Linked DNA regions of Homo sapiens: region 2 is linked to region 1. Evidence: fine-mapped expression QTL. A gene starts in region 1. The other region holds a variant in brackets. All regions are shown on one strand. Distances are between the middles of the regions. Region 1 holds the start of ATP10A (ATPase phospholipid transporting 10A (putative)). Region 2 overlaps ATP10A (ATPase phospholipid transporting 10A (putative)).

Region 1 (5,370 bases):
GTGCCTGGAACATTGCCGGGCATACAGCAGGGGATGAGTAAGTATTTGCCGAACAAGGACACTTACAGTGGTTCTCATGGCCTATAGCAGGCCCTTGTTAGAGCCCTGTGGTGCAGATGGCCAACCCAGAGTTGACCAGACCACATCAGAGCCTCATCCTCGCCCCAGCAGGCCAGGGTCTCAGAGTCCAGCTGGCAGAAGACACCTGAGCTCAAAACCCCTCCACGATTCCCCAGATCACACAGCTTGGAGACCTTTCCAGAGGTGAGCTGAGCTAGGCCTTCCTGGAAATCCTGACTTTGCACTGGGGAAGAGCAGGTGGAAAAAGATTCCAGACTTGAGGAGCATTGTGACTCACAGAATCTTGGAACCTTAGAGCGGAATGTGGATGGGATGAGTAAGGACTGTTCTGAGAAGGATAAGGAGACCTCTCACCTTGGGGCTGGGCCTGAACCAGGGAGGGGCTGAAGAAAATCAGCAAGCTGGTTCCCCTCAGGGCCTCAAGGGACCTCTGCCTGAGGAATCAGCATTTGGCTTTGTAAGCACCAGGAGTACTCCTGGAAGCTCCAGGGTAAGCAAATGGAATGAGGCGGTAATTACTTTGGCAACAGTGTGGACTGGCTGAAGCTGGGAGTCTGGTAGGCGCGGACACCCCTGGAGACTTTGGGCGAAGGGTCCACGGGGATGCCTGTGAAGACAGGAGGCCGAAGTGTAGGGAGGCCGAAGGCCTCGGGGGTCACCAGGTGGGCTGGTAGAGGAAAACACGGAGCCATGGGATGTGAGGCCTCAAGACTGCAGGCGCTGTGGGCCTTCATTTGCAGTTGATGCTCCGTTTGGGTTTCTGCTGGTTGACTGTGAGACCTGACTCCTTTCCCCAACAATGCAGACTTCAGCCAAACCTTTCCCTGATCTGGGCCTCTACATGTCAAAAGCCCACCCCTGTGACTGGGGGATGGGATTATTTTCTTCACACCTGTCACCACTCTACCTTCTAACACTGGGTTCTGGGCAACATTGTGGATGGTGGCAAAACTGGGCAGAGATGTAAGAATGTCATAACTGGAGCCGGGTAAGCCAGGGTGCTGGAGGGGAGGGCCTCCCCAAGCCAGGGTCCTGGCGAAGACGTGATTTGAGTCCATCCAGGGCAGTGCCTTGTTAGCAGGCACCCCCAGGAAGAGCCTGGGGCCACGGCCAACCGCCCAGCCACGGCCTCCTGGGCAAGAAATAACTGCTTCTCATCTCTGTACTTCTTGAGTGGGAGGCAAACAGTCACAGCCATGAAACATCTGTGGGGTCTCACTGCGGACGTGGGGGACTCCCAGCTCCTTTTTCCATGCCGTGCTTATTCTCCCACCCCTTCTCGGATGCCCCATGATGTGGAGGGGAGCCCTTCGCCCCACACTTCTGGGACACCCTCCTGACGCTCCCCTCTCCTCCCCACAACCATCCTCGCCTCCCCACAACCATCCTCGCCTCCCCCGCCGTCCGGGCCATGACAGCCACCTCAGAGCTACAGCGCACAAGGAGCGTTTCGGTCCTCATGATTTCCCAGGGAGGGAAACAGACACTCAAATACCTGCAAACCAAATTCTGTCTTTGCTATAGCGATATATTTCTCCTTTCCATGAAGAAAGAACAGAAAAAAGAAAAAGAATTTATTTAGGAGAGGAAGGAAAGGCAGTAATGATGATGGTGGAAAGGAAACGGTCTAGTTCGCCCAACAACGGAATCTGAAAGTGGTGGGGGCTGGGAAGTGGGGTAGGAAAGAAGTTCTTAGAGGCAACGCGGAATCGCCCTTCCCAGGGCTCCCCAGGAGCAGAGGTCCTGCGTAAAAAAGACTTAAAAATTGGAGCACTGGATGCCATGGATCCTTTGGATTTTGATTCCAGTTGATCCCTGGAGTAAGGTCCTAACCGGGGTCTCCCGAGGTCGTTTCGCCGTCCAGGATGGAGCAGGTCTGGCCCCTGGAAGGGCGCGCGGGCTGCTTGGGGACGGGGGCGCCTTTTCTCGCGCTTCGCGGTTTCCTCTCTCCTACTGCAGGCAGCGCGCGTTTGCAGCGTTTTGGGACCGAACTGATGCTTCTGGGAAACGAAACTAAACCTCTCTGAAGTTTCCAGCTCGGGCTTTTTTTGTTTCCCGCTATCCGGCGTGGCCCAGTCCGGGCGCGGAACGAGGGCGGGGCCGTGGCCACCGCGGCGGAAACGACCCGGGCCGGGGGCGGGCGGCGAGGACAAGGGGGCTCTGTGCGGCACCCGCCCAGCTTGCGCCCTGGGGACTGCGGCCGGGCGGCGGGGCTGGACGGGAGTGGACGGGGCTGGGCGCGGGCTGGGCGCGCTGGGCCGGCCAGGCGGCGCGCTGACCGCGGTCTCCGTGCGTCCCGCAGGCGGGGAGCTCGCACCGCCGCGCCCGGGCCGCGAGTGATGATAACCTAAGAGGCCGGCGCGGGCGGGCGTGAGCGGCGGAGGAGCCGGGCGCGGCGACACGCGGCCATGGAGCGGGAGCCGGCGGGGACCGAGGAGCCCGGGCCTCCGGGACGGCGGAGGCGCCGAGAGGGCAGGACGCGCACGGTGCGCTCCAACCTGCTGCCGCCCCCGGGCGCCGAGGACCCTGCGGCTGGCGCGGCCAAGGGCGAGCGGCGACGGCGGCGCGGGTGTGCCCAGCACCTGGCCGACAACCGGCTCAAGACTACCAAGTACACGCTGCTGTCCTTCCTGCCCAAGAACCTGTTCGAGCAGTTCCACCGCCCGGCCAACGTGTACTTTGTCTTCATCGCGCTGCTCAACTTCGTGCCGGCGGTGAACGCCTTCCAGCCCGGCCTGGCACTGGCGCCGGTGCTCTTCATCCTGGCCATCACGGCCTTCAGGGACCTGTGGGAGGACTACAGCCGCCACCGCTCCGACCACAAGATCAACCACCTGGGCTGCCTGGTCTTCAGCAGGTGAGTTGGGCGGGCGGGCGAGCGAGCGCGCGGTGGCGCAGGGCAGGGCGCCCCGGGAACTTGGTGTTGGGCACAGTGATTGGCAGGGGCTGGGTGCTTAGAAGGCAGCTCCACTCAGGGTGGAGGGCCCGGCTGCGCGGGACCCGGTGCCGACCGAAGCCACAGCGCCGCCAAGGCCTCTCTGTGCCTCCGCCGCAGCTAAAGGGGCGCCCTGGATGCGGGGACGCGTGGGGATCCCCTGTCACTCCGTGTCGGGGCCAGAATGATCCCAAGGCTAGAAACCGACGGCCGCTGGACATCCTCATCCACAGCCGCTCCCACCTGAAGTGAAAGGCAGGAAAAGCCAGCCTGGCCCCCTGGCCTGAAGTCCCTGCCTCAGTCTTCGGCCAGGCACAGTGGTCTCTGAACAGCCGGCACAGGACAGTAAAGCTCAGTCTGCTAACAGCTCGGCTCAGGACAGCAGCAAAGTGAAACTGCCGCCAAGTGCTGATATGTCTGGCACGGCCCAGGTACCAGGGCAGGGGAAATAACAGCAGTGTCCATCCTCCACTGTGAGCCATGAGCCGCGAGCCAGGCACCGCCCGGTAGCTGCCTGCCTAATTTTCTTCATCTTAACCTGCTTCCTGGGGGAAAGAGGCTGTGGGGTGTTTGTGAGCCCTGCCACGGGCAGTACCAGGGGTGACCCTGCGATGGACCACTCCTGCTCTTTTTCCCTCCCTGAGTTTTAGAGTCTCCGGCGGACCTGTCCAGAGGCCTGCGGCCTTTTCATCCTTTATGCTCTCCACCCCAGGAGAGCCCCTTGGTAGATCCATCTTGGAGCTGTGTCCAGCAGCCTGGACCACCTCAAGGCCCTGTCCCTGAGAAAGGTGGGTCGTCTTAGCTTTCCTCCAAAGCTCAGCCCATCGTTACCTCCTGCCTCACCTTGCTTGACCCCGGAACAGGGACTGAGATGGGCTTCTGAATAGAACATTAGCGGTATCTGGCTTCCATTATGCATGGGGAGACTCTAGGAAGCCCTATGCTCTCTTAGTGGCAGATTGTTCCCCTAAAAGAGGAGGGTCAGAGTGGCTCCTGCCTCTTAAACGTAGGCATTCACGAATGCCTTAGACACAGGCACTCATAGCTTGGATGAAGCCATGGATGCGTGCCTCTGTAGTTGAGTACCTTTCACCCTCCCAGCAACACTGCAGTGGTTATGCTCCATATTTTTGTAAACAGAGTAAACGGGTTCAGAGAGGTTAAGTAAACCTGCCCAGTGTCACACAGCAGCAAGGTCGTGGTACTGGGATTTGACCCAGGTCTTCCCGCCCGCACAGCTTTTTGAATATTTCTTTGCTCGTGCTTCTGAAACTTTTGTAAGAGTCACTGAAGGCGCTTGTTAAAATTACAGTTTTCCAAAGTGTCTCACTCAGCAGGCCTGGGATTGAGCCCAGGAATGTATTAGATTAGCGTGCACGTAACTCTTATATGATGGCCCACACTTTCAGAAACACCACTCTGCCTGCTCCCAAGCCTTGCTCTTTGGCCAGTCAGCAAGAGTGACTGTCATTAGACCGGGCTGTGGGATTTCCTGGCCCCTGTTCACCAGAAGCCTGAGCAGGGACAAGAGCGGCACCCCTTACACAAATGGCCTCCGTGTCCCCTGAGCGAGGCCTCCACCACATAGCCCTGGTGGGGCTCAACAGTTTTAAGCCTTTGCACAGATACCACTTCCTGTTATTACTGAGCCCGTAACTCCTGTAGCCTCCTTTTTAGAAATACTTATGCCTCAGGAGAAATACAGTTTATTTTCAGTTGGCAAAGTGCTTTGAATCCATTATGTCATTCGATCCTTATAGTAACTATCACACCCATCTTGCCGATGAGGAAACTGAGGTTGGGATCTAAAAGCTATTCTCTTGTCTCTGTGACCTTGTAAGGCTTCATGGGACTTTGAAACTTTAGCTTCCATTTGGACTACACCCATCTACGTTCCCCTCCCCTTCCACTCTGCCCTTGACTCCAGATATCTTAACTCTCCCTCAGACTCTGTCTTCTTCCTTACTGAAGGAACTGTCAGCATTTTTCATTCACTTCCCAGCTGCCTTGAGGACAGTGGGCGCAATGCCCTACTTCTGTTTATTGTTCCCTGGGAAGGCAGGTCAAATTCTTCCAGTCCCAGAAAGGCTGGAAGAGGTGGTGCCAGGCCCTGGGAATAGAAGGAGGAGGAGGCTGGTTTCACCCAGAGTTTACTGTAGGGACAGATGGCACCATAGGGCATGTCTACCAGGTGAAGTCCTGGGTGGGGCTCCCAGCCCCGGGATGCAGGCTCCATGTCTGGCGAGGCGTCCCAGTGCAGGACAAGAGTCTGGGACGGTGGTGTGAGGATCAGGAAAATGGTGCCAAGCAAGGTGGGGCAGAGAGTGGGTGCTGCAGTGAGAGATCGGGGGCGG
Region 2 (5,370 bases), 88 kb after region 1:
AAAGCTGTTATCTTTAAAAAAATAAATAAAAAAGAAATAAAGAGGACCCTGAAGAATATAGGAGCCAGGAACAGTGGCTCACGCCCATAATCCCAGCACTTTGGGAGGCTGAGACAGGAGGATTGTTTGAGGCCAGGAATTCCAGACCAGCCTGGGCAACACAGAGAAACCCCATCTCAAAAAAAAAAAAAGAAAGAAAGAAAAAAAATTGCCAGATATCGTGGTGTGCAGCTGTGGTCCTAGCTGCTCAAGGGATTGAATGGGAAGGATGGTTTGAACCAGAAGTTTGAGGTTGTGGTGAGCTGTGATCATGCCACTGCACTCCAGCCTGGGGGACAGAGACCCTATCTCTGTCTCCAATATATATATATGGGAATAGCTGATGAAGGGACAGCCACTGCCCCTGGCTCTGAGACAGAGTTCTCCCACTCAGGGAAGAGTACCCTCCCAACCCCTGAACCATGGCAGGGGGCACAGCCTTAAATTTGGGGATGGCAGGAAAGGTACTTAGGGGCTGTACTGGTGGAACTTGCTAGAAGCCTTCCCTTGGGGACCGGGGAGGCTATTGCCAGGGAGGTGCCAAGCATAAGAACTTGCTAGATGCCAGGAGCAGTTGCTGGACGCTGCTGGAGCCAGGCCCTCGCTGCAGTGGATGAAGACTGGTGACAGCTCTCTAGACAGCAGCGCCGTGGAGCCCCACCTTTGAGAGGGTGCATGGAGCAGCAGCCTGGGCTTGAGAGGGCCCATGTTGCCTGCAGGAATATGTCCAGGGTACCCCGGACTGAGAGATGGGGAAAGTGTGGAGCAGGCCAAGCCCTGGAGAAACCTGGAGGGAGTGGGCAGTGCGGAACGGGTACACACACACACACACACACACGCACGTATGCACACACACGCATGCACACACACACACACCCCACCTAAAGACCAGCCATGGGACCAATACGTGGAGGACTCAGGCCTATTCACCAGTGATGCCCAGTATGGAGCAGTGAGATGAGTCCAGGGGGCTTTTGTTAGGGGTTTGGGGCCATGAGAGGTCAAGGGAGGTTCCAGAAAGAGGAGCTTGAAACTGACTCTGAAGGCCAGGATGGAGAGGTCTCAGGTGCCAGGCACTACAGGGAATGACGTCCGTCAGATGGTGCCCCAGAGGCGGAATAGGGTTGTATTTAATGAAGAGCATTTGAAAAAGTGCGCAGTGTTGAGGGGCTACAACAAAAACCGGAAGGCGGTGGGCATGGCCCACCCAGACCCCAGAATCTGAAGGCGAGGCCTAGACACCGGGCTGATGGCTCCGGGACCTTAAATCACCCAGCTATTTCACTTCTGGCAAAAGAAACAGAGATCTTGAGACGTAAAGATTTGATGTAAGAGTTGGAGTTGAATGGATGTTATCCAAGAATTGAGAGAGGCCCCCGTGTGGAGCATCACACTGTCAGGCAATGTCTCACATTTGTTCAGCCTCCTGCACGCCAGGCCTACTGTATCTCCCACAACTGTAGTAGAGCAAACATTTTTAAACACAATTTCACAGAATTTTAAGTATAAATCTTGTGAGATAATGATTATCACACCAATTTATAGATGAGAAACAGAAAAAGTGAAGTCAGGAGATTCTCCCAAGGTGCCTCCCCTCCCCCACCCCATCCGTCAGTGTGGATTCGGAGCGGGTTCCTCCACTTTGCGTGGGGTGTCTGCTGTCTCTCACCTGCACATTCGTGCAGCCCTGCCACGAAGGTGCATACGTTCAGATGTTCTGTGGGTAGCAGTTTCTAGTTCATTTGTAACATTTGTCATTTCTGCAGAACTAGGAGATCCCTAGACTGATAATTTTATATAAAACTCAGTGTTTTCAAAGACTCATTTTTGTAAGTTTTAATTCATTCAGCAGATACGTACTGAGCATTTATTATGTTTCTAACGCCATTCTAGGAGGTGCATTGATCAAAACTGGGGAACATCTTTCCTGCCATAGTGCTTACATGATCTATGTGAAAAGTTGGATAGACGGTTGAAGTCTTCGGTGCTAACTGTAGACGAGAAAGCAGAAACAGGGATATGAAATGTCAGATGAGTGTTGGAATTTCAGCCGGGGTGAGGCGGGGACAGGGCTGTCCTGCTTGAGAACAGCTGGAGAGTCCAGACCCAGAGGACACGTCAGTGTCGGGAAGAGCCGTCCCAGAGGTGACTTCTGTGTGGGTTAATTTACTGAGAAAATAGTTTCCAACAGTTTGTCTCTTGGGTGGACCTGTTTGGATGAGTGCCCACAATCCCAGCCACACCCACGTCCTCTGTGCAGCGCTGTGGGGAGTAGTCATTGTCAGGCTTGCAGGAAGATCTGCTGCTGACTCTTCCCAGGCGTGTGCACATGTGTGCACGTGTGTGTGTGCACAGTGGTGCGTGTTCCAAATAAGGAAGAAAGATAAAAGGAGTATGGAAACTTCCTAGGCTGGACAAACACTGCTCTTAAACACGTACCTTCACAGTCAGGTCAGCAGTGATGCCAAGGCGGAGACAGGGTTTCCCCTCTGTTTTGTGAATACACTGTGACCAGTCCCTGGGGGGCCTGGTGTATTCAGGCTCTGACTCAGCACGGTTTTCTTTACAAAGGAGAGTCAGTCCCACCCCAAGTTACTTGACAGAATTCAGAAGCTTAGAAAGTGACTTCAAAAGTCCAAATATGTAGAAGACAAAATATTTTTTTTAAAAAACTGCTACCTACACATGCTTCCAAAATTGTCTCTATCACAGGAAAACTAGAAGTGAAAAAGTATAATTTGCAAGGTAGTTTTTGTACCCAAGTCTCTTTTTCCCTAAGCTTTTCAAGTTGTTAGTCTTTAATGAAATTTAGCTACATTGGCCGTGGAATTGAAGGAGGCAGCATAATCTATCATCTAAGTGGAAAATAAAGACAGCTGCCTGGGTATGGTAATTAGATCGGTCAGTTTTAAGCCTTTACAAAGAGGCTTCCATGTTTTTCTCTTATACATTCAAGGATAGTCAACAAGCTCATAATTTATACTGAGACATTTTTGTTTTTAAATTTAACAATCTCATAATTTTCTTGAAGGACATTAAATCTGTAACAGGAAAGACAGAAATAAATGACTTTGACAATACAATAACTTTATTTAGATTAAATTTTTAATTCTAACAAGTGTGGATATTCATAGAAATTCAGTTC[T/G]GTAGGTAATATGATTATTTGAGACATACCATGTTTTTTCATATTAACTGTGTTTATTTCATGGCAATATAAGTTTGGCCCGAAGAAGATTTTTTTTTTAAATTCTGGTGACTTCATAATGGATTCTTTGCCTTTAATTTATAGTCTATTAAATCACCATGTACAGAGAGTGCAGCACCAGCACTCTGATCTTTTTTTTTTTTTTTTCTTTTTGAGACGGAGTTTTGCTCTTGTTGCCCAGGCTGGAGTGCAATGGCACTATCTCGGCTCACTGCAACCTCTCTGCCTCCCGGGTTCAAGTGATTCTCCTGCCTCAGCCTCCCAAGTAGCTGGGATTACAGGCATGTGCCACCACTCCCGGCTAATTTTGTATTTTTAGTAGAGACGGGGTTTCTCCGTCTTGGTCAGGCTGGTCTTGAACTCTGGACCTCAGGTGATCCACTCATCTTGGCCTCCCAAAGTGCTGGCATTACCAGTGTGAGCTACCGCACCCGAACCTCTGATCTAAATGAATAAATTAATGCCATGAAGTTGATAATAATTTGGCTAGTCTGAAATATTTATCCAAAAAGATCTTCTTATATTGTGTGGAAACTTAAAATTTTTTGTGTGGTTGGAAATGATCATTTCTTATTCCAGAAGTAAAAAGACAGCCAAAGCAGTAAGATGTTTTAATTCTGTTCAAGGTAGCGTACAATGTGAAATGCTTTTTTTCTCTTTAACTATATTTTCACTGTTTAAAAAAAAAAACGGGAATTTAATAAAATTTCCAATTTTCCTAAATGTAGTTTAATTGCATCAGCAGTTGCAAAGGGTTTGAAACTTCCTCTGTGTGTATGTGTGTTTCTGGAGCAGGGATTTCCTTACCAGTAGGAAGAGGTGACAATGTGAGATCGACGCAGTTAACACTAGGCATCTCCTCATGAGTGAGTGAATATGTGTGTGTGTGTGTGTGTGTGTGTGTGTGTGTGGATGTTTAGGTGTGTATGTTTGTGTGAGTGTGTATGCAGACAGGTGTGAGTGCAAACATTTTTGCAAGTGAGTGTGCAAGTAAGTGTATGTTCCAAAGAAGAAAGCAAAATGAAGTGATATTGCTTTATTAGGTTGTCACTTTCTATTATCTCTAAATTTAGGAGAGGATAAATGTTCCCTCCTGGGCTAAGATATAGTGTTGCAGAAGTGGATTGCTCTGCAAGAGAGTGCTCCCTAGGGGAATCTGGAGTTTCCAATCTCACTATTGAGGACCTGCTGTGAGCCCATGCATTACGTGAGGGGTGCCCACGCAATCCACTTCTGCTGATTGGACTCTGGAACCTTTGTCCCTTGGTGGAGGCCCTGTGCTGTGTGTCATTTCCCTTCTGCTTGTTTTGTGAGCACAGCTTTCAACAAGAGGGAACTTCCTTGTGTCCACAGAGCACAATGCAAGACCTGTCAGAGCACCTCCGCAGACATTGGAGTTATCTTAATTTTGTGAATTGGTAAGAGCCAGCTTCCCTCGTTCAACCTATGCAATGCTTTCGGTTTGCGAGTGCTCCTCAAGTGGAAGGCTGTATTTTGGTTCTCACTGTGGTATTAGGGCTTCCTTAGAGTTTCGCCCGTCTACAGCAGCAGAGATCCATGAACACATTTGCAGTTTCATATAGTCACATAAACCAGACCTTATAAAGGAATCGACCTTTAAGGAAAGCAAGAACTCGACTTCAGGAAACACTATTGCCTACTGGGATGTGGATGAAACTGGGCTTCCTGACATCTCAGTTGGGTTTAGTGTCGAAATTAATTCAGGGCTTTTTCACCATTGCTAATGAATAATCCGTGTGCCAAGGAAATGACTTCGTGAACCCCAGTGAGACTTTTAACCAAGCTGAGATCAGGCCTGCAAACTTCTTCAATTTGTCAGTTTTCACAAAGCCCTTTTCAGTAGTGTGTCTGTCAGAAGGCCTTATGTTCCCCGCCTCCCAAAACTGTAAAAGGACAAGAAATGTGAGTGTCATTGCTGGCCACGCTGTCTTCCCTGGGGTTCCGGAGAGTGGGGGATTGGGTGCATGCCGGGGTGTTCATAGGTTAGGAATTGTGCCAGATCTTCAGGGTCGTTCCACTCACCTGTCACAACTGACCTTTGCCGCACTGGCACCAGCCCTTGGCGAGAAACAAGCCCTTTCATTTGTGTGGTAAAGAAGGCCAAC

Evidence for each region. PIP is the estimated chance that this variant, and not a neighbour inherited with it, causes the effect. A credible set is the group of variants that fine-mapping cannot tell apart.
Region 2: its variant is the best candidate, but not a certain one, in a credible set for the expression of ATP10A in whole blood (INTERVAL, PIP 0.78).

Annotation. Positions count from the first base shown.
Region 1 is chr15:25,860,216-25,865,585 of GRCh38, reverse strand. ATP10A (ATPase phospholipid transporting 10A (putative)) reads left to right here and starts at 2,259. Exons shown (of 21, transcript NM_024490.4): 1 at 2,259-2,938. The coding sequence starts at 2,490. ATP10A-DT (ATP10A divergent transcript) reads right to left here and starts at 316. Exons shown (of 2, transcript NR_183988.1): 1 at 1-316.
Region 2 is chr15:25,772,604-25,777,973 of GRCh38, reverse strand. All of the region lies in intron 2 of ATP10A (ATPase phospholipid transporting 10A (putative)), which reads left to right. Among named protein-coding and RNA genes, the nearest start is that of MIR4715, 74 kb to the left of the region's middle. The variant T/G (reference allele first, on the strand shown) is at 3,185.